Linked DNA regions of Homo sapiens. The protein of the gene in region 4 purifies or fractionates together with the protein of the main gene of each other region. This does not show direct contact. Each region holds a gene or a part of one and is shown on either strand. Other genes may lie near its edges. The genes, in order: UBE3C, RIBC1, DNAJC16, ACVR1, CD9, SLC26A2 and SRSF4.

Region 1 (3,500 bases), on a different chromosome or scaffold from region 4:
GTTCGTGCATGGCCACTTGTGCTGCGTGAGCGTCGTAGGTTTAGGGGAACAGAAGTAGAGGGATTTACATGAGCTTTTAAAATCCCAAATAGACTGGCCAGGTGCGGTGGCTCACACCTGTAATCCCAGCACTTTGGGAGGCCAAGGCGGGTGGATCCCCTGAGGCCAGGAGTTCAAGACGAACCTGACCAACATGATGAAACCCCGCCTCTACTAAATACAAAAAAAAAATCAGCCGGGCATGGTGGTGCATGCCTGTAGTCCCAGCTACTTGGGAGGCTGAGGCAGGAGAATGGCTTGAACCCGGAAGGTGGAGGTTGCAGTGAACCAAGATTGCACCATTGCACTCCAGCCTGGGCAACAAGAGCAAAACTCTGTCTGAAAAAAAAAAAAAAAAAAAAAAAAAAAAAAAAATCCCAAATAGACTAAAAGGGAAAATCCTACCCCAGTCAAGACCCCGCACAATCATAATTGAGTTATACCGTGGAAAACACTTTGAGCATCCATGAGACGGTCTTACTGTTTTTTTTATTTTTCTCAATGTTCTAACATATGTGAAATTTAATTGATTTTTCCATGATAAGTGTTTTTGAAGTTGTTATATGTTAGACATCCAGTTTGGAAAAATCATCTTAATATTTAGGCTTTCCGGTTAGCTTAGTATGCCTGGATTTGCCAGGGCTGCAGAATTAATGTAGACTTAAAGGAAGAGAATGTCTTTCAGTTGAAGTACTATAAATAGCAAAGGCAGGCAGGCATAATTTTAAAGTTATGAAACTCCTTAGTGCCAGATTATTGGAGAAGAATAACATCTGCTAAAGCTAATTAAAGTTTAATATGTTTAATAAATGTGATTGTTACAGACAAAAAATCATTAAAGTGCTGTAGAAAATTGTTAAGTTACCATCAGGCCACATAATAAATTAATGATTTTTCTCACTCTGAATTAATGCAAATTCCCGTTGTACTGTATTTAATTATGCACAAAATGGTGCCCTTGACTCAGATTTCAGTGAAGAACTTCATTTTTTTACTTTTAAGTCTCCAAGTAGGAAATTCAATTAGCGTTATGAAAGAAACACTAAAATGTGGCATTTAATTGCAAAATATATTTTAAGCTTTTCATTTATCCAGTGACTTTGCCAGCAGTCACTGACCCCTTCATTCAGAGATCCTTTTCTGTTTCAAAAATGCAATGCTTCCTTTTTAGTATATTCAAGCATTTGTGAAAATTATTGCCCTCATGTACTCAGAATGCTGAATAATAAGTGTAATAAATGTTATTTCTGGTTCTCCTTTGGTTCTCATTCTAACATTTTTATGAGAGATTTAAAGGAGCAAATAAACTATAATTAGAAAAAAAAAGACAATGGATTTTAGCACATATTATATGCCACATATATATTTTTTAATGAAGTTTACATTTAACAGTAAAGAGACCTACAAAGATCAGTAATAAGAATCATGTAAGTCTCTTCATAGGCTTTTTTTTTTTTTTTTTTTTTTTTTTTGAGATAGAGTTTCGCTCCTGTTGCCCAGGCTGGAGTACAATGGCCCATCTCAGCTCGCTGCAACCTCTGCCTCCTGGGTTCAAGTGATTCTCCTGCCGCAGCCTCCCGAGTAGGTGGGATTACAGGCACCTACCACCACCCCCAGCTAATTTTTTTGCATTTTTAGTAGAGGCAGGATTTCACCATGTTGGCCAGGCTGGTCTCGAACTCCTGACCTCCGGTGATCCACCCACCTCAGCCTCCCAAAGTGCTGGGATTACAGGCATGAGCCACCGCGCCCATCCTCTTCATAGCATTTTGTGGGCTGTGCTCTTACTAGTTTTACCCTTAACATAAATTATATGCTAAACTCAACATATAATTGAAACAAAATCCAACTGAAATGTGGGTGTGGCCAGTTGGGTGCCTGTTGTGCTTTGTGACAGCTTCAGTGCTTCCAAAGGTTCCTGCAGAATGGGACATTGCTCTAGTTTGATTCACATTTGACTACAATGGTTAGAAGGTAATTACCTTTTCTATTTTTTAAATTTTTTTGAACATAAACTCAAGATTGTATTGTCTTCATAATAAAACAAAAGATGACACTTAGAATTGGATGTCTTGGCCCTTCCTCCTCTTCTGTCCTCCCAGTTCAGAATGCTCACATCTCTTTATATCCAGCATCCTCTTACATCTGCACCTATGCTCAACGCACTCAAGCCTCAGCACAAGCTTCTTCGTAGTTCTAGCCTTTTCCCGGAAAATCAGCTTAGTCTGCCCACCGTAGCCGCTATGCTTCGTGTCCTAACACCACCTTCCCCGGGCACCTGTCCTAACGCCACCTTCCCAGGCACCTGTCGTAACGCCACCTTCCCCGGGCGCCTGTCCTAACGCCACCTTCCCGGGCATACAGAGAATCCGTGCCCTTTTGTGCCGTGTCGCTTTGTGGGCTTGCCACACTTACAGAAAGTCGAACGGGGGCCGGGTGTGGTGGCTCACGCACTTTGGGAGGCTGAGGCGGGCGGATCACCTGAGTTCAGGAGTTCTCGACCAGCCTGGCCAACATGGCGAAACCCCATCTCTACTAAAAATACAAAAATTAGCTAGGTGTGATGATGGGCACATATAGTCCCAGCTACTCGGGAGGTTGAGGCAAGAGAATTGCTTGAACCTGGGAGGCAGAGGTTGCAGTGAGCCGAGATTGTGCCATTGTACACCAGCCTTGTTGAGAGAGCAAGACGCCAACTCAAAAAAAAAAAAAAAAGTCTAGCAAGTATTAGGAACATTCACTTTGTGGGAGCGCTGTTGGCACCGAAAGCACTTTTTTTATATTGGATTTTTTTTTTTTTTTTTTACCTTTCAGTAAAAGTAATGTTTTCATTATAGAAAATTGGAAATTGTGATCAAGTATAAGAAACCTATATTTCCTCCCATTCTAACCATTATTTTTTTATGTTTCCTTCCTTTAATTAGTATGTGTTTTATCTACCTACATGAGTGTGTGTTAATGTAGATATGCATAATTTTTTCTGTTTTTGGTAGAGGTAGGGTCTTGCTCTGTTGCCCAGGCTGTCAGAAACTCCTGGCCTTGAGTGATCTCCCACACCAGCCTCCCAAAGCACTGGTACTACAGGTGTGAGCCAACATGCTCGGCCTGTTACACACACACACACCTGGTATTACAGGTGTGAGCCAACATGCTCAGCCTGTTACGTGCACACACACACACCTGGTATTACAGGTGTGAGCCAACATGTTCGGCCTGTTAAGCACAGAGACACACACCTGGTATTACAGGGGTGCGCCAACATGCTCGGCCTGTTACACACACACACACACACACCTGGTACTACAGGTGTAAGCCAACATGCTTGGCCTGTTACACACACACACACACACACACCTGGTATTACAGGTGTGAGCCAACATGCTCGGCCTGTTACACACACACACCTGGTACTACAGGTGTGAGTCAACATGCTCGGCCTGTTACACACACACACACACACC
Region 2 (2,871 bases), on a different chromosome or scaffold from region 4:
AAGAACCTTATAAATCTGGCAAAGGGGGTTGGGCCTTATAAGCACTGGGGAGCCATTGCTTTAAAGGTGCTTTCAAAGGCTTTACGCTGAGGAGTGCCATGGTCAGATTTGCTTCCCAAAGATCACTCTGGTAGCCAGTGCAGAGAAATCCAGTGCAGAGAGGGTAACGTTGGAGCAAGAGAACCCAGTGGGGCTCCTGAGATACTGCCTGACACCAGATTGTGAGGCCTGAATTAAGCTGGTGACAGCAGAGATGGAGGGCACAGATACGAAATATATCAGGAAGTAAAATCAGTAGGAATCAATAACTGCTGAAATATTATAGGGAGAAAGGAATGGGGGTGGCGTGTAGTCAAAGACGGTGGTCGGCACTGATGGGCCATTCCACCTCCCTTTTGCTCCAGATGTATAACATAAAACAGTCAACAGATACCAAGGAAGCAGCAGCCATCGAGGCTAGAAGAAATCGAGAAAAAGAGCGACAAAACCGATTCTTCAATGTGCGGAACCGAGTCATGGGGGTGAGTGGGTAGTAGGGACTGTTGCTCAGGATCAGGGCCACCTCACTCTTACACCTGGAGAGGAATGTGTAACAGTGCCCATGATAGCCCTTCCCCTGATTCAAGTAGGCCCCTAGGGCAGGAAAGGAAAGAGAGGGAGAGAAGGCACCCACCCCTACAGGCCTGGGAAGAGCTTGGGAAGAGGGATAGGTCAGTGCAGGGGAAGAGACTAGGGGAGACGGCTGACCCTTCTCCAGTCAGCTCTGGGCCATGTGACCTGGTTCTTGAGACAGGCAACATGGAGCTAAAAGAGGCCTAAAGAATATTTGGAGTCCGGGTGCAGTGGCTTACACCTGTAATCCCAGCACTTTAGGAGGCTGAGGTGAGCAGATCACACAAGGTCAGGAGTTAAAGACCAGCCTGGCCAACGTGGTGAAACCCTGTCTCTACTGAAAATACAAAAATTAGCTGGGCGTGGTTGTGCATGCCTATAATCCCAGCTACTTGGGAGGCTGAAGCACAAGAATCACTTGAATCCAGGAGGAGCAGGTTACAGTGAGCCGAGATCACACCATTGCACTCCAGCCTGAGCAACAGTGAGACCCTGTCTCAAAATTACTGCATATACCTAAACTATCTCTGCAAGGCTATGTTGAGAAACTTAACCAGGCTGAGAGACAGAGATGGAAGGGACACTTACGCCTCACTAAACTGTATTCCTTTTTGTATGATTTTGAAATGTGATAAATGAATTATAATAAAAGAGAAAATATTGATAGTTTAAGAAACAAAAGATTGCTAGGTGAGTGGATAGAGGGGGGATGCAGCATGGTATTCTGGAAAAGACCCCGTAAGTATTTAAGGCCAGGTCTGCTGACTGTTATGTGTGTGGCTTTGGATAAATCACCTGTCTTCTCTGAGCCCCAGGCTCCTCTTCTGTAAAATGAGGCTGAAGGAAGTCAGGTGAGTGTTAACACAGAGTGGCAGCTTTGAAAACCAGTGCATAGTGCCTGCCGTAAGAAGTTGGCTAGGGTATTAGTGTTCTGATTGAGATCCAGCTGACAAGCTGACAAGCATTTCCTCGGGGCCTGCTCTGTGCCAAGCACTGTGTTGGGCAGTGGGGATACGAAAATGACTAAGGCCCAGTTTCTGCCCTGAAAGGGTTCACAGTCTGGTGGAGGAGAGAATACAGAGAGGCGAACATCAATATAATGTAGACAGTGGGTTCTAGATTCTACAGGAGTAGAACCTGCCTGAGGGGTCAGGAAAGTGAAGGCTGAGCTGGTCTCGAAGGACAAATTGGAATTTGTGTAAAGAGGGGAGGAAAGTGTTCCAAGTGGAGGGAGCAGCTTGAGCAAAGGCTATTGGTTCAAAACAGCCTAAGATATTCAGGGAACTGTAAGCACAGCTCATAAGGGTAAGGTGGGACTAAGAGATGAGGCCAGAGAAGGAGGCAGAGGCTAGACCATGGAGAGGCTTACAAACCATGCTCAGGAGCTAGAACTTTATCCAGTAGGTACTGGGGAGCTACAGGATTCTGAAACAGGTAAATTCTAATTAGTTTGTGGTAGGACATTGAAGGCCCCCTGCTGGGCCCCTACTCTGATTGTGCTCCTTTCTTTGGGATCAGGTGGATGTCCAGGCCCTGAACAACCAGGTGGGAGACCGAAAGCGTCGGGAAGCAGCAGAAAGAAGCAAGGAGGCAGCTTATGGTAAAAGCCAAAAGCCAGGGGCCAGACAAGGGTGTAAAGAAAGAGCTCGAGTGGGCTGAGGTAGGGCAGTTCTGCCTCTGTGGCCTGAGGCCCTGGGGTGGTGGGACAAATTGGATGGACCTTGAGAGTAGAGGACATGCTAAGTGGACTCTGTCCCTCCTGGGGTATCTTCTCCATATCCTTGCTCACCACCCCCAGGTACCAGCCAGGTGCAGTATGATGTGGTAGTCCAGATGTTAGAGAAGGAAGAGGCAGATCGAACACGTCAGCTGGCCAAGAAAGTCCAGGAGTTTCGGGAGCAGAAGCAGCAGCTCAAGAACGGGCGTGAATTTAGTCTTTGGGATCCAGGCCAAGTCTGGAAGGGGCTTCCAACCTATCTTAGTTACAGTAATACCTATCCTGGTCCAGCCAGCCTGCAGTACTTCTCTGGGGAAGACCTAGACAGGGACACACGGCTGAGAATGCAGCAGGGGCAGTTCAGGTACAACTTGGAAAGGCAACAGCAGGAGCAACAGCAAGCCAAGGTTGATGAGAATTATACAGGTAAGCAGCCCGGCCCTCCAGACTCAGAGACCTGAGGCCTAGTGGGGATCTGTCCTAAGCTGAGTACAGCAGCCAGGGGACCAGAACTGTGTGGGGAGGTCCACTTATCCATAGGG
Region 3 (3,500 bases), on a different chromosome or scaffold from region 4:
CGGGCGTGGTGGCTCACGCCTGTATTCCCAACACTTTTGGAGGCCGAGACAGGTGGATCATTTGAGGTCAGGAGTTTGAGACCAGCCCAGCCAACATGGTGAAACCCCATCTCTACTAAAAATACAAAAATTAGCCGGGTGATAGTGGCGCAGGCCTGTAATCCCAGCTACTCGGGAGGCTGAGGCAAGAGAATCGCTTGAGCCTGGGAGGCAGAGGTTGCAGTGCGCCAAGATTGTACCACTGCATTCCAGTCTGGGCAACAGAGTGAGACCCTGTCTCAAAAAAAACAAAAAAACAAAAAAAACAGTGGCCTTGAAATCTTTATCCAGGTAAAAAGCAATCGTAATAATAACGAAAAATGTTCTAATTTGAAAGTCAGGCACAAGTGCAGTTTGAAACCTGATTGTTACTAAATGAATTTAGTCTATCCTAAAAGCTATTTCTCATGTCTACCTGTGTTATCAGAAGAAACAACAGCATTCTAGCATCCTGATATCATTCTAGCATTGGGATGAAACGTTGCCATCCTAGGAGAAGACATGGGTTCTTATGGATAAACGACTTAGCCTTCAGCCAGCTTTAGCAGTGTTTGGGAGCAGTGTACAGACATGCACCATTTCCCACCTTCCTCTGTGAAATGCTGCAGTATTATATGGTGCTTTGAAAACATGCCCTGCTGGAGTGCTTTGGGAAAAAATAGCCTGTTTCAAAGTTTCATTTATTATAGTCATGTAAAACAACTGATTGCCTCTATCATTTATTTTAAGAAACTTTCCTAACAAAATAGCCCTCCGTCTGCCTCTGTAGTGAACTCTGTGGACAAGGACATTAAATGACTGTGCATTAAAAGTTACATCCTTTCTCACCGCCTGCCTGTTTGTGTTTCAGGCATCCTGACAAAAACAAAGATCCTGGAGCAGAAGACAAGTTCATTCAAATCAGTAAGGCTTACGAGGTATCGTGTCCAGCTTTGTGATGCATCCATTAGCTCTTACAAAATATGCCTTAGGAGGTGATGAGTTTTGTAAAGTTGTCAGAAAGGTCATGTTCCCCATGCCCTTGATGCAGTTTCTAGATTATAATAGAGAGAACAGGCTGGATGCGGTGGCTCATGCCTGTAATCCCAGCACTTTGGGAGGCCGAGGTGGGTGGATCACGAGGTCAGGAGTTCGAGACCAGCCTGACCAACATGCTGAAACCCTGTCTTTACTAAAAATACAAAAAAAATTCGCCGGGCGTGGTGGCACGTGCCTGTAATCCCAGCTACTCAGGAGGCTTAGGCAGGAGAATTGCTTGAACCCGGGAGTGGGAGGTTGCAGTGAGCAGAGATCGAGGCCTGGGTAACAGAGGGAGACCGTCTCAAAAAATAAAATAAAATAAAAAATAATAGAACATATTTGGCCACATCCAGTATATTGGAACAAGTGCCTGAACACTTCAGCTCTTGGAAAAACTGGCCTATTTTAAAGGCTTTAACTAGAATTGTAGAATTACCCTGAGTATGTCTGTATGTGTCACTATTGCCTTCTTAGAAATATGCATTAAAGAATCACATACCAAATCGCCTATATTTATTAAAGTGGCACGAGGTAACAAATACATTTAAACACAAGATTTTCAGTAATTTTCCAGTATGTCAGCTCAAGTAGATTGGTCTGGAATATGCATCAAAGAGAATTCAGTGGCTTTCTGATTTGTATAGGGAATGCCCTTCAGCAGACAGTGCTTAGCTCATAGAATAACACGTCATCATTCTAAAACAGATTCCTGAATTTTAGACTTCAAAGTTATTTTGTAAAACAAAGTAAATTAACAGACAAGGCACTAGACTATAGCTATTTGGTGTTCATAGCTTTTCTTATCTTGGTTTGAATTGGTCCAACTCACCAGGTATGACCAGGTCAATTTTCTTGTCATTGAGCCCTGGTGATCAACATTATGTTATTTTATTTGTTTTGCTGAAGTGTTTAATGTTGTGGTAGTTTGAAATCTTTAATGCCAAGATGAGCATGAGTACCTAAACTGAAATATTTTAGTCTTGAATGTTCTTTAATGTTTCTCTAGTGAAAGAAGAGTTTCTCATTCTTTTGAATGACTGCATTTAGAATATCTAATCGGCTGGACCCAGTGGCTGCTCACGCCCTGTAATCCCAGCACTTGGGGAGGCTGAGGCATGCAGATCGCTTAAGCTGAGGAATTCAGGACCAGCCTAGACAACATGGTGAAAAATACAAAAATTAGCCAGGCATGGTGGCATGTGCTGATGGTCCTAGCTACTCAGGAGGCTGAGATGGAAGGTTGACCCTGAGAGATGGAGGCTGCAGTGAGCTGTGATCACGCCACTTCACTCCAGCCTGGGTGACAGAGTGAGACTCTATCTCGAAAAGAAAAAGAATATCTAATTATGTCATAATCTTTTTTCTTTTTTCTTAAGAGACAGTCTGTCTCTGTCACCCAGGCTGGAGTACAGTGATGCGATCACAGCTCACTGCAGCCTTCAACTACTGGGCTCAAGCAATCTCCCACTCACCTCACCCTCCCAAGTAGCTAGGACTATAGGCACGCACCACCATGCCTGGCCGATTTTTTTTTTTCTTTTTGTAGCAAAGTCATGCTATGTGGTCCAGGCTGGTCTTGAACTCCTGGCTTCAAGGGATCCTCCAAACCTTGGCCTCACATAATCGTGTCATAATTTTTACATTTCTTTTCTTTTCTTTTCTTTTCTTTTTTTTTTTTTTTTTTGAGACGGAGTTTCGCTCTTGTTGCCTAGGCTGGAGTGCAGTGGCACCATCTCGGCTCACCTCAACCTCCGCCTCCTGGGTTCAAGCAATTCTCCTACCTCAGCCTCCCGAGTAGCTGGGATTACAGGCATGCGCCACCACTCCCGGCTGATTTGATTTTTTGTATTTTTAGTAGAGACGGGGTTTCTCCATGTTGGTCAGGCTGATCTCAAACTCCCGACCTCAAGTGATCCACCCGCCTCAGCCTCCCAAAGTGCTGGGATTACAGGTGTGAGCCACCACGACTGGCTGCATTTATTTTCTTCCTATGTCTTTCAAGCTGCTTACAAAAAAGTCTTTTGGATGAACCTTTTGTTGTTGTTTAGATTTTTTTCTTCCTTTATAGATTCTTTCAAATGAAGAAAAGAGATCAAATTATGATCAATATGGAGACGCTGGAGAGAACCAGGGCTACCAGAAGCAGCAACAGCAGCGAGAGTATCGCTTCCGCCATTTCCATGAAAATTTTTATTTTGATGAATCCTTTTTTCACTTCCCTTTTAATTCTGAACGGCGGGACTCAATTGACGAAAAGTATTTATTGCACTTTTCACATTATGTGAATGAAGTGGTTCCAGATAGCTTCAAGAAACCCTACCTCATCAAGATCACCTCCGATTGGTGCTTTAGCTGCATTCATATCGAGCCTGTGTGGAAAGAAGTCATTCAAGAACTGGAAGAATTGGGTAAGATAATTTTATTCACTGAAAGATATTTAT
Region 4 (3,500 bases):
GTAAATTGTAGACCAATGCACTAAACCAATGTGGCCTGTGTTTGAGGTCCACAGGAAAACAGGCTCACATGTTAAATGTGAGCCTCTAAGTGGCTTAACAAGAAGCAAATTAAGCTCTCAAGCTCCACCACTGCTCTCACTAGTCTCCAAACACAAATTTCCAACAGTGTGAGATAGAGCATTTAAAGTAATTTATCACTACATAAAGGGCAGATTGCTATAAGCACTGCTTTATTCCTAAAGGAAGAGCTGCTTATCTGAGCAGTAATGCTGACCAAACCCACAGGCCTTTTCTCTAGAATCATGGAAACAGACAGCATTTAACTGGACCTCAATTGAAAGCACAACTCTCAGGTTAAATGGCTTTCAAATGCTTTCTTAAACCATGACTCATTCCAGAATTCCTCAGTCAATTAGGGAGACAGGCTTTCTTCACTGGCCAGTGGGGAGACACATACATGCATGCTTTATTTGTGGATGATTTTATGTTACTGATGCATATGCAGACTGACTGAAAATGATTCCTATAACATTTGTTGTAATGAAAAGTGCCAAATTGGAGCAAGCAGTCCCTGTAAACCACTGCAATGCAAATATCCCTTGTTGATCTCTCAAGCCATCTACAGAGAATGCTTCACCTTCCACTCCACGGCTTTGAATGTGGGGGATGACAATTTCATATAACATCAGGGAGCTAGCACACCTTATCTCATCCTTAATAATTAGCAAAGATACTGGCAACTGCATTACACTAAAACAGACAGGTTCCTCTTTCACCTATTTTTATAATCAACCCCAAGATTCTATGGACACTGTGAACATTTCCCAAATCCTATGCAATAGTCCCCCCACTTATCCTTCAGTTACCCGCAGTCAACTACAGTCCAAAAATAGGTAAGTACAGTACAATTAAGTATTTTGAGAGAGATACCATATTCACATAAATTTTATTATAGCATACTGCTATCATTGTTCCATTTTAGTGTTACTAATGTTCATCTTTTACTGTAGCTAATCTATAAATTAAACTATAATAGGTATGTAATAGGAAAAAACATAGTATATATAGAATCTGGTACTATCCTGAGTTTCAGGAATCCACTGGGAGTATTGGAAGGTATTTCTCAGGGAAAAGAGGGGACTACTGTATGCCCCTCCACCATTTGCAGAACCAAACAGTCAAAATATCAGAATATTTAAAAGGTGCAGGTTAAATAGAACATGGAGATATTCTGAAGATGGGAGAAGCTTCAAAGAACTTGTGGACATATTTTAAAGCCACCACTGCTAGGATCTCCAGGTGAGGCATAATTCCCCATCCCTTGAGTGTATGCTGGACTATTGAATAGACTATGGCATAAGTGACAGTGGGTATCTTCACAGTTAGGATATAACAGATGTTATAAAATTATAAAAGGCTTCCTGTTTGTCCCTCTCAGCTCACCATGCACCATGTTATAAAGACACTCAAGCAACCCTGTGGAGAGGTCCCCCTGCAAGGAGCTGAGACCTGCCGCCAATCATGGCTTTAAGTGTGTCCTCACAGAGTTGGAAACTCCAGCTCTGGTTGAGCGTTCAGATGATTGCAACCTCCACGAGACCCTGAGCCAGAACCACACCGCTAAGTCATTCCAAGATTCCTGACTCTCAAGAGACTGTGTGAGATAACAAATCTGTGTTGTTTTAAGATGCTAAATTTTACAGGTGATTTGTTCTTAGTAATAAGTAATTTTTACACTAAAGATGACAAAACAACCGGATGCAATTTGTAAACTTTGGCTGAGTTCCTCTTTGAAAAAACTGAAAACATCTGAAAATGAATATAAAATGATACTAGAGAATTATCAATAATCTGTAGATATGAAAAACTGATTATGAAGAAGATGCATTTTTAAGTATTTTCAAGGGATGAATTTTGAAGTATTGAGGGGTAAAGTGTTGTGATGCCTGTAACACTTTATTTTCAAATGGATTGGCAAAAATATACACATGGTCACAGATTGATAAAGCAAACATCACAAAGTTTTAACAATTATTGAATCTAGGTGTTCGGGATTTAAGTGATCATTATAACATTTGAATTTTTTAATAATAAAAAGAAAAACAGACGAGGCACAGTGGCTCACATCTGTAATCTCAACATTTTGGGAGGCCGAGATGGGATTGTCACTTGAGCTCAGGTGTTCAAGATCAGCCTGAGCAACATAGTGAGACCTCATTTCTACTAAGAACAAAAAAAAGTTAGCCAGGTGTGGTGGTACACACCTGTAGTCCCAGCTGTTTTGGAACGCTGAGGCAGGAAGATTGCTTAAGCCCAGTAGATCGAGGCTGCAGTGACCTATGATCAGCCTGGGCAACAGAATAAGATCCTCTCTCAATCAATTAATCAATATAATACTGATCTTTTTGCAGGATTAATCATAGAACACTATTTCTAATACATGATCCTTAATTGCTAGGTATATACTGGTAAGTTATATACAAATTATGGTCTTATAAGAGTTGTTTCCTGCACTGCATTGTTTTACCATATCCTGAATAATAACGCCTTAACAGATTTTTATACAAACCCATATATCTAATTGGAAGGTTACAAGCCAAAAGAAATGTAGTTGAAGAATTAATTAGCTGGACTTACTGCAAAGTTCCCCTCAACTCCTTCCCTACCAAGTCCCATAAACCAAAACCAAGAGCCACCTCAATTTGTCCACCCTCCCCAGACCACTGGATTATAACAGAAGCTACAACTTGAATCCTTATTGTTTACCAGACATTTATAATACTTCTGGGCCTTACCAGAATCCGGTGAGGTGGGCTTATTTTTTAGTTACATGAGTAATATATGATCACACTATATATATATTTTTTTTTAGACGAAGTCTCGCTCTGTCGCCCAGGCTGGAGTGCAATAGCGCGACCTCGGCTCACTGCAACCTCCGCCTCCTGGGTTCAAGCAATTCTGCTGCCTCAGCCTCCCCAGTAGCTGAGATTCCAGACGCACGCTACCACGCCCGGCTATTATTATTATTTTTCTTTTTTTTTTTTTTTTGTATTTTTAGTAGAGATGGGGTTTCATCACGTTCGCCAGGCTCATCTTGAACTCCTGACCTCAAGTGATCCTTCCGCCTCGGCCTCCCAAAGTGCTGGGATTACAAGCGTGAGCCACCGCGCCCGGCCACGATCACACTGTTATGCAAGTTTCTAACAACGCAGAAGTACAGGGCACAGCGTCAAGCCCTGGAGTTCCTCTTGGCTAACTCCCAACCCCATCCGCCTTCGCCCTCACTGTCCCTGTCTCACTGAGTGAAAGCAGTGTCAGCACTTGGGCCAGGTAAATAGATAAATAGACTTGCACAAAAATACAGGGTAATTGAGAAAGCCAGAATTTAAACCCAAATCGCCCTGGCTCTAAGAGCCATGGAATAAGCCATAAAAGTCCTCTACACCACAACTAAAAATGCCTGCAAAAAACTTTAGGGCCATGCTCTTTCAATGCTTAT
Region 5 (3,500 bases), on a different chromosome or scaffold from region 4:
AAGCTGCAGGGTGGCAGGAGAATGGTGAGTGCCATTAGAGGAGCTGGGGCTCACCTCTGGGAACCTCACAGGATTCAGATCCTGCAGGTCATTGCAGGGCCCTGCTGGTGGCCGGTGGTCCTACCTGAAGTGACCAGGAGGGTGATTTGAAGGCACAACCCCAAAGAGACACAGATCCCCTAGTTGGGGTCTAAGGGCCACTGTCCACTTAGCTCTGCCAGGGAAATACAGATCCTTTGCAGCGACACCCCATTCGGGGAAGAGAGCGGAGCTTTGAAGACTTCGTTCTGCCTGCAGAAGCGCCGGCAAGGGGGATGATGCACGGTAAAGTTAGAACAGCAGCACTGTGTCTGGGCACAGTGATCAGCCCTGATCTCAGGTGATCCGTCCGCCTCAGCCTCTAGCACTTTGGGAGGCCGAGGCAGGCAGATCACCCGAGGTCAGGAGTTCGACACCAGCCTGGCCAACATGGCAAAACCCCACTTCTACTAAAAATACAAAAATTAGCTGGGCGTAGTGGCGTGCACCTATAATCCCAGCTACTCGGGAGGCTGAGGCACAAGAATCTCTTGAACCTGGGAGGCAGAGGTTGCAGAGAGCTGAGATCACACCACTGAGGCTCTGTCTCCAGCCTGGGAGACAGAGCGGGACTCCATCTCAAAAAAAAAAAAAAAAAAAAAAACAGCAGCACAGCACTCTGAGCACTGCTTAGGTCTGAGCTATGCCCTGAACGTCACTGAACGCTTTAGGAAATAATAATTGTCGTCCATGGGCAAAGGGCCAAGGAGGCGTCGCTCTGTGTCCCCTTCCCCACGAGGCTGTGAGACCAGCCTTCTGTACTGGCCCAGAGCCCTTCTCCTAGCAGATGAGCTTGGAGTGCCAGCCACACCCTGGCTACTTTTCCAAGGAATAGTCATGGGGTGACCGCCCCTTGCACTGGGCCACCAACTGTCTGCAGAGCAACCCACAGGCCAGCCTGACCATGCAGCTGACTTTTCAGGAAACCTGAACAGCCCAGGGGTGTCTTTTCTCCAGTGGGGCCACAGCTTACCAAGTAGAGAAAGAGTATATAACCAGGCAGAAAAGCAAGTGAAAACCTTTCCAACATTCAGAACAGTCTATGGTAAGTCCAGAGCAGCTGACAGCCTTATATGGGCCTTCTCTCCAATCCAGGCCTGGAGATTCAGCCCGTCAGCAAGATCCCTAATCCCAGGCTGCAAACTTGTTGGGGAACTTCATTTTCTTGGTCCTAGGCCAGCAGCCTTTCCCAGCTCCCTGGTGTCCCTCCAGAACCATGGCTGCTGAATGAGGGCATCTAGGGGGGCTCCAGCCAGAGGCCGTGAATGCCCCCCCTTCCTCGGCCAGCCCCCTATCCATGATGAGGTGCCTGGTGATTTTCAGGACACGCGACACTTGGCCTTAGTAAGCTGGCATCCCCATCCTGGCTTGTGACCTGGGGCAGTTCATTTTATTGCTCTGGGCTTCATTTTTCTCCCTCCTGAAACCAGCACAGCTTACACAACCACAGCACAGCTTACACACCCACTCCCCTCTGGGGCAAAGAAGTACAGCGTGTGGCAAATGGAATTCCATTGTGGCACTTATTCCCGTGAACTCGGGAGGGCGGGAACCAAGACGAAACCAGTCGGGGCAGAGGTAGGGCTCCTTTGAACACCTGGTGGAGTTATTTGGATATAATAAACTTTTATTGCAGGCCAGAGGCCCTACCGGATTTTGTTCTCCTTCACACAAACGGGCGTGGTGAGTGCTGTTTGCAGGACAGAGCTGGTGTAGGGACGGGAGCCTGCTGTGTCCTCTCCCTGGGCTAAACTGAGAGCCCTGGTGAACAGTGAAAAACACTGTTCCATTTCTTGTGTAAAGGACACGCTGGCATATGCTACTGCTGCTACACCAGCCTTTCTTTTTTTTTTTTTTTTCTGGGCCTGTAATGTCAGCCTGAAAAAAGCAGAATAAACAACCCTTAAGCAAATTAATACCGTAATCCTAGAGAAGGCTCTGTGATGGATAACTTTTTCCATGAGTCAGACAGCAAGCTAACATTCGCTTGTTTTATAAAGGGGAACACTTTGTCATTTATCAACAGCAGCCTTGGCTAACAAGCTTGGGGTGTAAGCGATGAGTAGCTTCTCCAAAGGGAAGCACTGAATAGCCCTTGTAAAAACCAGCCCGAGCCCTGCAGTGGTTCCGTGACTTCCATGGGGCCTGCTTCCAGATGAGCTGTCCTGTAGCTTGCCGGCTGCTGCTGAGTCCCCGAACACAGCTGCCAGGGGATCGCTTCCCTTTTCCCGTGACTAGAGAGGGCTAAAGCTAGGCACTGCAGATCCGTAGCCATCCACGCAAGATTTAAAGCCCACAAAACCCGTGATCCTAAAATCTTCCTCTGCTGAGCCCTAGCATGAATATTTAATATTAACCACAAGCCCCATTAGGAGCATGTTCTCTTTCTCTGCGTGGGAAATACTTTCTCTTTAGTAGCTCACTTGCAGCTAATCCAATTCCCTTGGCCTCTGCCAGGACCGCCAGGTTCAAGAACTGGGATCTGGACTTAGAGAAAACATGTCTGCCTGTTCGTTCCCACTCCACGGTATTTCATGTGTTTGTAAATCCTTTTGATCTCTTAATACCTCCTGTTTATTCAGCCCCTGCTATGGAGCTCAAAGGAGTGACCTCATCCTTCCTTGACTTGCCCCCATTAGATGGGGAGAAACTGGGGCCTTTCTACTGTCCCCATGTGAGAGAACCAAAGGAGGCTGCCCTCTTACCCAGTGCTCCATGCATGGGGCTGCACAGCCTCCCCAAGCCCAGCTTGTGGCCTCAACAGCGTTTGACTGCCCAGGAAGATGCGACCTGACTTGAGGACAAGCTACATTTGTCCCCTTGCCCAGTGTGGGCCAGGCATGCACAAGAACAATACCCATATTCTTGCAACATGGGGTTTGCCAGTAACCCCACGTGACTTGACCTCACGACGGATGTGGGGGAGAAGGGGGAGGAACAAACGCTCTCTGTGTGCATTCTGCTCTGTGCTGCCCGTGAGCCTCAGCTGCGGGCAGACTGCATGGTTTGTTGCCTGCAAAGTCTCACCCCTGCTCGGGGTGCAGATGTGGGACAGTGAAGTCAGCGTGTCACCTGCCGAGGGTTCTCATCGAGTGTCCTGCTGTGTATTGTGGGGAAACATCACAGACTTTCTCTCTCGCGTGCGTGTTTTCAGCCCCTACATCAAGGATATCTCTCTGGTCCCAGTGAAAGGACAGTAGGGATACAGCAGCAGGTTAAAATTCACCATGGTGATTATTAATGATTGTTACTCATGCTTGGTATAATTGAGATTAACAACAGCTAGCATTTGTTGTGCACATGTGGATTATATCACTTAATCCTCACAGCAATCCTGGAAGTGGGCATTATTGCTACTCCTGTTTTACAGATAGAAAACTGTTGCACAGAGAGGTTAAGTGGCTTCCCCAGAGTCACAGATC
Region 6 (3,143 bases), on a different chromosome or scaffold from region 4:
GCCAGGCTGGTCTTGAACTCCTGACCTCGTGATCCACCTGCCTCAGCCTCCCAAAGTGCTGGGATTACAGGCGTGAGCCACCGTGCCCAGCCTAACACATGATATTTTATTTTATTTATGTATTTTTTTGAGACAGAGTCTCGCTCTGTCACCCAGCCTGGAGTGCAGTGGTGTGATCTCGGCTCACTGCAACCTCTGCCTCCCATGTTCAAGCAATTCTCATGCCCCAGCCTCCTGAGTAGCTGGGACTACAGGTGTGCACCACCAAACCCAGCTAATTTTTGCATTTTTAGTAGAGACGGGGTTTCACCACGTTGGCCAGGCTGGTCTTGAACTCCTGACTTCAGGTGATCCACCCGCCTGAGCCTCCCAAAATGCTGGGATTATAGGTGTGGGCCACTGAGCCTGGCCAACAGATGGTATTTTAAAACTCACTGGGGCCTAAATGTGTTTTAGTCAGAACCCTCCTTGCACTTAAATAATTTAAATACAGAGTAATGTATTATTAGAGTAACAATTTATTAGCAGACAAAACAAATGAAACCTCTAAATCTCAACACACATACAGGATCTTACATAATAAACAGCATAAAACATAAGCTTCTAGAAGAAAAGTATCTGCTATTAACCAACTCCCCCTCCTTTCCAGTAGGCTGCAATACATTAATAACTCATCCTCATCCCATAAGAGGGTTAAGCAATGATTTACATGGAATTACATCAAGGCACTTGCTTTAATTAAAAAATACAGTATAAAACATGTTCCTAAAAGTCATCAACCTTGAATAATTAAAGAAAAAACAGGCAGTATACTTTTTTGGTGAATAGACAAGACTGAGAATTTAAGTTCATTCACCTGTCACCCTGATATTGTCTTGGTTTGTGTACAAAGTTCCAAAGAAGACAAAAAAAGGTAGCCTATTACATAGATTGGTATGTTCATACACACTCATTTCTGAGAAACAGAAGCCATGGCAGCAACAGGACTCAAACCATAATTTTCCAACTGATTTGTGTTGAAAAGGCAAGGGCTATTTGATCCCATGTATCTTATTATTTTAGGGATGACGCATGAGATAAGGGAAGAGAACATCTCCAAAATAAGTTGATTAAAGCTTCAGTTGAAAGACCTTTTTGGCTTAAGTTGCTTAGCTATAGACTTACAAACATAGTATCTACAATAAAGGCATTTAGTGTCCTTCATTATTCCAGTTTTTAGACTTCAGTCCATTCTTTTCCAATTTTCAACACTGAGATAAAAAATACACACCAGAGAATCCACTATTTACTACAATGCTTACTTTTTAACTGTACTTAACATGTTTACTTTAAAATTTCAGTTGCAAAACTTTTTTTTAAGTCCTTATCAGGATAAAAATTACCTTATAAAAATAAATCTCCCCACCTCTGACATCTAAATTCTCCATCCCTGTAAGTTACTAAATTTTTTTTAAACCTTAAAAATTTACCTTTAACGTATTTCAATAGTATTTTAATACACGGACTATAATAACAAACCAGCTGGTATATTATTTTGTCCTTTTCCATTATAATTTTCATTCTTGTAATTAGCAACCAAGTTAATGATTGCATTCAGGATTATCTAAACTGTTTTTACAAAAAAAAACCCCACGAATTAGGAGCCTAACAGCTTTCTATTTTTTTAATTAAAAAAACTGATTCTTTTTAATTTTTTCTTTTTATTTTAGGCTCAAGGAAACTTCCCTGCTAGTGAAACTTCACTCTCAACACCACTCAATGATCTAACAGCTTCCTAAATCCAACTTCATTCTTTTTGCAGTTTAAGCCCAGTTTCAAATAAGGCATCACTGGGATGGATAAAGAAAACACTGAGATGGGGGATAGAAACATTAAAAAGCAGAAAAACTAAGCAAAATCTAAATCCTGTCAATTGGATGTTTACCATTTCACACTGAAATCTTTCCCTGAATAGACCAGGGACATCACTGCCTCCTGCTCAGATCTCAAAGCTTCAACATGCTCCACAAAGCACCTCCCTAAGTACCCTAGTGTGTTCCCTGGGAGAGTTGCTACACAGCCCATCTACTGGATTTAGTACCATAGTCCCAGCACTTGGCCCAGGGTCCTAGACTGCTGGGTAGGTCCTCAGAGGTATCTGAAGTCATGTCTACATTGATACAAAGAAACGTATGGCTCATCTGTAACAATACGTAGAGAAACACAATTAAGAACAATAAGGATCACAGAACTCGAATGGATCATTATAACTTCAAGACTCAGTTTAAGTTACCAAGAAATGCACTGTAGCCCTTTTCTCACTTTTATATTCAGATCAGGGCTAACCCTAACATGTTCTTAAATGACCACTTATGGTCATTTAAGTGGTCAATGGGAATATTGCAGCAGAGAACTGCTGTTTTGTTTAAACGTACTAGCCATTAGCATTAAAAGAGTCTAATGAACTCATCTAACACCTGGACACATTTTTAAAGTTCATCATTTACCATATGTAAATTTGACAACAATTTTGACTTGCAATGTCTGTTGTTCAAAAGCAAAGTCAGACTATCTAAATCTTGTTTTCCTTTGGTCCTACTTAAAAAAAAATTAGACATCTTGTCAGTTTTATTACCATCAGAGGCACAGATAGTACTACAGTCACTCAGTTTAGAAGGAAGACACCGTGCTCCAGAGTAGGTCAGCCCAGGCTACCATGAGCTCCTCAGCCCTTTCAGCTTTGGTGAATCTGTGACCCTGTGACCCTCCCCTTCTAGAAAGAGAAATTTGCTCTAGAAAGATACCTTGCTCTGGGAGGTATGGCTCCTAATCCTTGTCTCCCTATTATTGTGTAGAGGCTAACCAGGGATTGGATCCTATTCAACTGGGTTCCTCTCTTTTCTGCCTCCGCTGGTCAGATAATAGTCTTTTCAATGGTCTGTTCTCTTCACTCCTCTATAATGTTTTCCTTAGTCTACCTGTGCACTGGCACACTCCAACCCTTTGGCTGTAACAAACTTAAAAATAAATAAGGCTGTAAGAGTTCTAACCATCAAGAGTATACCACACTACGTTTCAATTAAATAACCATTTTATGATACTCAGAATCTTGTACTGAGAAAAAGCTTCATTTAGACTCTAAAGTTTAGAGTAAGCAAGATATT
Region 7 (3,500 bases), on a different chromosome or scaffold from region 4:
ATCATTGAGGAATCATTACAGAGGAAAACGACTTCTGGGAAGAAGACCAATGGTAAAGATGTATTTCAAGCAAAAATTGCCTGTATGGCAAAAACGCTGGAGAGTCTGAAAGGAAGGAGTGAGTACAAAAGAAAAAGCATAACTTAGCTACGTATGTAAGCTTATAGTCCCCTAGCAGAAGGGCAGTGGATCTCCCTACTGGGAAGCATGTTTGAACATATCTAGATTGTGATTAGTAATTGAAACTCAGAGGCCGGGCGCGGTGGCCTGTAATCCCAGCACTTTGGGAGGCCGAGGCGGGCAGATGACGAGGTCAGGAGATCGAGACCATCCTGGTTAAGATGGTGAAACCCCGTCTCTACTAAAAATGAAAATAAAAATTAAAAAAAAGTAGCCGGGCATGGTGGCAGGCACCTGTAGTCCCAGCTACTCGAGAGGCTGAGGCAGGAGAATGGCGTGAACCTGGGAGGTGGAGCTTGCAGTGAGCCGAGATCGTGCCACTGCACTCCAGCCTGGGCGACAGCGAGACTCTGTCTCAAAAAAAAAAGTAATTGAAACTCAGAAACAGATTTTGGATGCTTTAGATAGGTCTTTGAAGAATTGCTGGAGTTCAGATTTGTAGAAGTGAGATGTATCAGTAGATATGTTAGGCTGAAGGGTTGTAAGTTAAGTTTAGAATTAAGGCATAAAATGCTTGTCTAGACCGGTCACGGTGGCTCACACCTGTAATCCCATCACCTTGGGAGGCCGAGGTAGGTGGATCACTTGAAGTCAGGGGTTTGAGACCAGCCTGGCCAACATGGTGAAACCCCATCTCTACTAAAAATACAAAGATTAGCTGGGTGTGGTGGTGGGCACCTGTAATCCCAGCTCCTCTAGAGGCTAAGGCAGGAGAATTGCTTGAACCTGGGAGGTGGAGGTTGCAGTGAGCAGAGATTGCATCACTGCACTCCAACCTAGGCAACAGAGCAAGACTCTGTCTCAAAAAAAAAAAAAAAAAAAAAAAATCTTGTGTAATAGGAAGATGACCAAATAAGGAAACAAATGAGTTCTTCAAAGGAGATTTAGTGTTCAGGAAAGGATTCTATGGACCCTGAGAGGGTTTGGAGAAGAGGTGTGTAAGCAAGAGTTCATTGCCTACCGTTTTATTACACCAGGCATCGCTAATGTAGATTGCCACTGTTCTAGAGAACTTTTTGAAAGATGGTTTGGGACCACAAATACAACGAAGATCTCCCAGGATCATATAGACCATTCCATTTCCCATTAAGGTCTCCTACTTTTCTACCCGCCCCATAAACTTCAAGAGTCACTGCAAGGGCCTGGCACGGTGGCTCACACCTGTAACCCCGGCACTTTGAGAGGCCAAGGCAGGCAGATCACCCAAGGTCATAAGTTCAAGACCAGCCTGACCAACATGGAGAAACCCCTGTCTCTACTAAAAATACAAAGTTAGCCGGGCGTCGTGGCACATGCCTGTAATCCTGGCTACTCGGGAGGCTGAGGCAAGAGAATCACTTGAACCTCAGAGGCATAGGTTGCGGTGAGCCGAGATCCTGCCATTGCACTCCAGCCTGGGCAACAAGAGCAAAACTTCGTCTCAAAAAAAAAAAAAAACAAAAAGAGTTACTGTAGGGAAGGGAGGGGCAGGAATCCTAGATGCACGTCAAGGAAGCAACAATATTAGCAGCACTTGTTTATACCCTTTCAGCTCTGTGGTAACTTTTGTTGGCTTTGATTGTATATAGATTTTATTTTTTATAATAAGCCATTTCATGTAAAGTGTGAAAGAATTTTGAGTACACTAGTTGCCCTTTTGTCATAAAATCTTGTGGTTTTAGTCAGATCTTTATATCTTAGCTTTTCCATATTTTAGTTAATGAGTAAAACTTACCACATATTAAGATTATTTTGCCTGTCTAGTAGCTAGAAGGATAAACCCCCAGATCATTGAAATTTATAGTTTTATTTTTTAGTTCAAGTCATGAATTAAAACTCTCAAGGGAAACTTGGATTTAAACTTCAGAACCTGCGTTTCATGGAACAGTGAAATCATGAATAGCCTGAATTTTCAGGGGATGTTGTGGTCTGTTTAGTCATGCTATCTAATTATTACCAGAAAATTTTTGTTTTCGCCCTTGTTTAATGCACCATAATTTTTTTAATGTGGAGTTCAAGACTCTTCGAGTGAGGCAGGTCGTTGTTGTGTATGTCACTGCTCACTGGAGGGCATTATTAAGCCTTAGATACTGAGAAGAATTACTGCCAACCCCAGCACCTACACAGGGATTTTTCTCTTTTGACTCCTGAATTCTTGACAGATTAGGAAGTATATAGTTAGTTTAATGTTCCAGGTTGCTGGTTTCTGGTTAGATGAGCTGTTACAGTATTTTTTTCTTTTTTTTTTTTTTAAAGTTTTTAGTTTTTAATTCTCCCAAGGCTTCTCCCAAGGCTCTGTCATTCATCGTTACCGTATTCTTAATCATGAGAGGGATTATCTTCACCCACCACCAAGTGGCAGAGAAGTGCTTTATCATTTTTATGATAATGCTATAACTAATGAGTGACAAAAGAAAAAGCAAACACTTTGCCTTTAGGAACCCTACCACCTATTTGTTGTTTTTTTGTTTTTTGTTTTTTGTTTTTTTTGAGATGGAGTCTTGCTCTGTCGCCCAGGCTGGAGTGCAGTGGTACAATCTCAGCTCACTGCAACTTCCGCCTTTTGGGTTCAAGCAATTCTCCTGCCTCAGCCTCCCAAGTAGCTGGGACTACAGGCGCGTGCCACCACGCCCGGCTAATTTTTTGTATTTTTAGTAGAGACAGGGTTTCACCGTGTTAGGCAGGATGGTCTTGATCTCCTGACCTCATGATCCACCTGCCTCGGCCTCCCAAAGTGCTGGGATTACAGGTGTGAGCCACCATGCCCGGCCACCTTTTTGTTTTTAAGCCCTTCTGCCAGCCTCAGAAATAGCATCCCATTTGCACTGGCATGTACAAAGCATTAGAGTCTATGTTAAGAAAAGGAAGACATTTGGTTCTGGATTAATTTTAGGATTATCTAAGAAGAGGTTAAAACAAGTTTTGTTTAAAAGCGTGTTTGAATAACTCTCTTTATGTATAGTTAAAATTAAAGACCCACTCTTAATTTTCAAAGTAGCACATATTTATAATTGGAAATTTTTTTTTTTTTTTTTTTTTTTTTTTTTGAGACAGCGTCTGGCTCTGTCGCCCAGGCTGGAGTGCAGTGGCGCAATCTCGGCTCACTGCAAGCTCCGCCTCCTGGGTTCACGCCATTCTCCTGCCTCAGCCTCTCAAGTAGCTGGGACTACAGGAGCCCGCCACCGCTCCCGGCTAATTTTTTGTATTTTTAGTAGAGACGGGGTTTCACTGTGTTACCCAGGATGGTCTCGATCTCCTGACCTCATGATCCACCCGCCTCGGCCTCCCAAAGTGCTGGGATTACAGGCGTGAGCCACCACGCCCGGCCGGAAATTTTTTTT

Evidence for each region.
Region 1: the proteins of ACVR1 (region 4) and UBE3C purify together in Homo sapiens (co-immunoprecipitation; one large-scale study listed by IntAct). This does not show direct contact.
Region 2: the proteins of ACVR1 (region 4) and RIBC1 purify together in Homo sapiens (co-immunoprecipitation; one large-scale study listed by IntAct). This does not show direct contact.
Region 3: the proteins of ACVR1 (region 4) and DNAJC16 purify together in Homo sapiens (co-immunoprecipitation; one large-scale study listed by IntAct). This does not show direct contact.
Region 5: the proteins of ACVR1 (region 4) and CD9 purify together in Homo sapiens (co-immunoprecipitation; one large-scale study listed by IntAct). This does not show direct contact.
Region 6: the proteins of ACVR1 (region 4) and SLC26A2 purify together in Homo sapiens (co-immunoprecipitation; one large-scale study listed by IntAct). This does not show direct contact.
Region 7: the proteins of ACVR1 (region 4) and SRSF4 purify together in Homo sapiens (co-immunoprecipitation; one large-scale study listed by IntAct). This does not show direct contact.

What each region holds. Positions count from the first base shown.
Region 1 is NC_000007.14:157,260,926-157,264,425, forward strand, and holds part of UBE3C (ubiquitin-protein ligase E3C), read left to right. Parts: intron 1-3,500. UniProt on the Homo sapiens protein: E3 ubiquitin-protein ligase that specifically catalyzes 'Lys-29'- and 'Lys-48'-linked polyubiquitin chains.
Region 2 is NC_000023.11:53,425,873-53,428,743, forward strand, and holds part of RIBC1 (RIB43A-like with coiled-coils protein 1), read left to right. Parts: intron 1-404; coding exon 405-521; intron 522-2,130; coding exon 2,131-2,212; intron 2,213-2,410; coding exon 2,411-2,755; coding exon of another isoform or gene 2,756-2,790; exon of another isoform or gene 2,791-2,871.
Region 3 is NC_000001.11:15,533,348-15,536,847, forward strand, and holds part of DNAJC16 (dnaJ homolog subfamily C member 16 isoform 1 precursor), read left to right. Parts: intron 1-889; coding exon 890-956; intron 957-3,127; coding exon 3,128-3,467; intron 3,468-3,500. UniProt on the Homo sapiens protein: Plays an important role in regulating the size of autophagosomes during the formation process.
Region 4 is NC_000002.12:157,761,331-157,764,830, forward strand, and holds part of ACVR1 (activin receptor type-1 precursor), read right to left. Parts: intron 1-3,500. UniProt on the Homo sapiens protein: Bone morphogenetic protein (BMP) type I receptor that is involved in a wide variety of biological processes, including bone, heart, cartilage, nervous, and reproductive system development and regulation.
Region 5 is NC_000012.12:6,227,900-6,231,399, forward strand, and holds part of CD9 (CD9 antigen), read left to right. Parts: intron 1-3,500. UniProt on the Homo sapiens protein: Integral membrane protein associated with integrins, which regulates different processes, such as sperm-egg fusion, platelet activation and aggregation, and cell adhesion.
Region 6 is NC_000005.10:149,984,758-149,987,900, reverse strand, and holds the end of SLC26A2 (sulfate transporter), read right to left. Parts: 3' UTR 501-3,143; downstream 1-500. UniProt on the Homo sapiens protein: Sulfate transporter which mediates sulfate uptake into chondrocytes in order to maintain adequate sulfation of proteoglycans which is needed for cartilage development.
Region 7 is NC_000001.11:29,175,401-29,178,900, reverse strand, and holds part of SRSF4 (serine/arginine-rich splicing factor 4), read left to right. Parts: intron 1-3,182; exon of another isoform or gene 3,183-3,500. UniProt on the Homo sapiens protein: Plays a role in alternative splice site selection during pre-mRNA splicing. Represses the splicing of MAPT/Tau exon 10.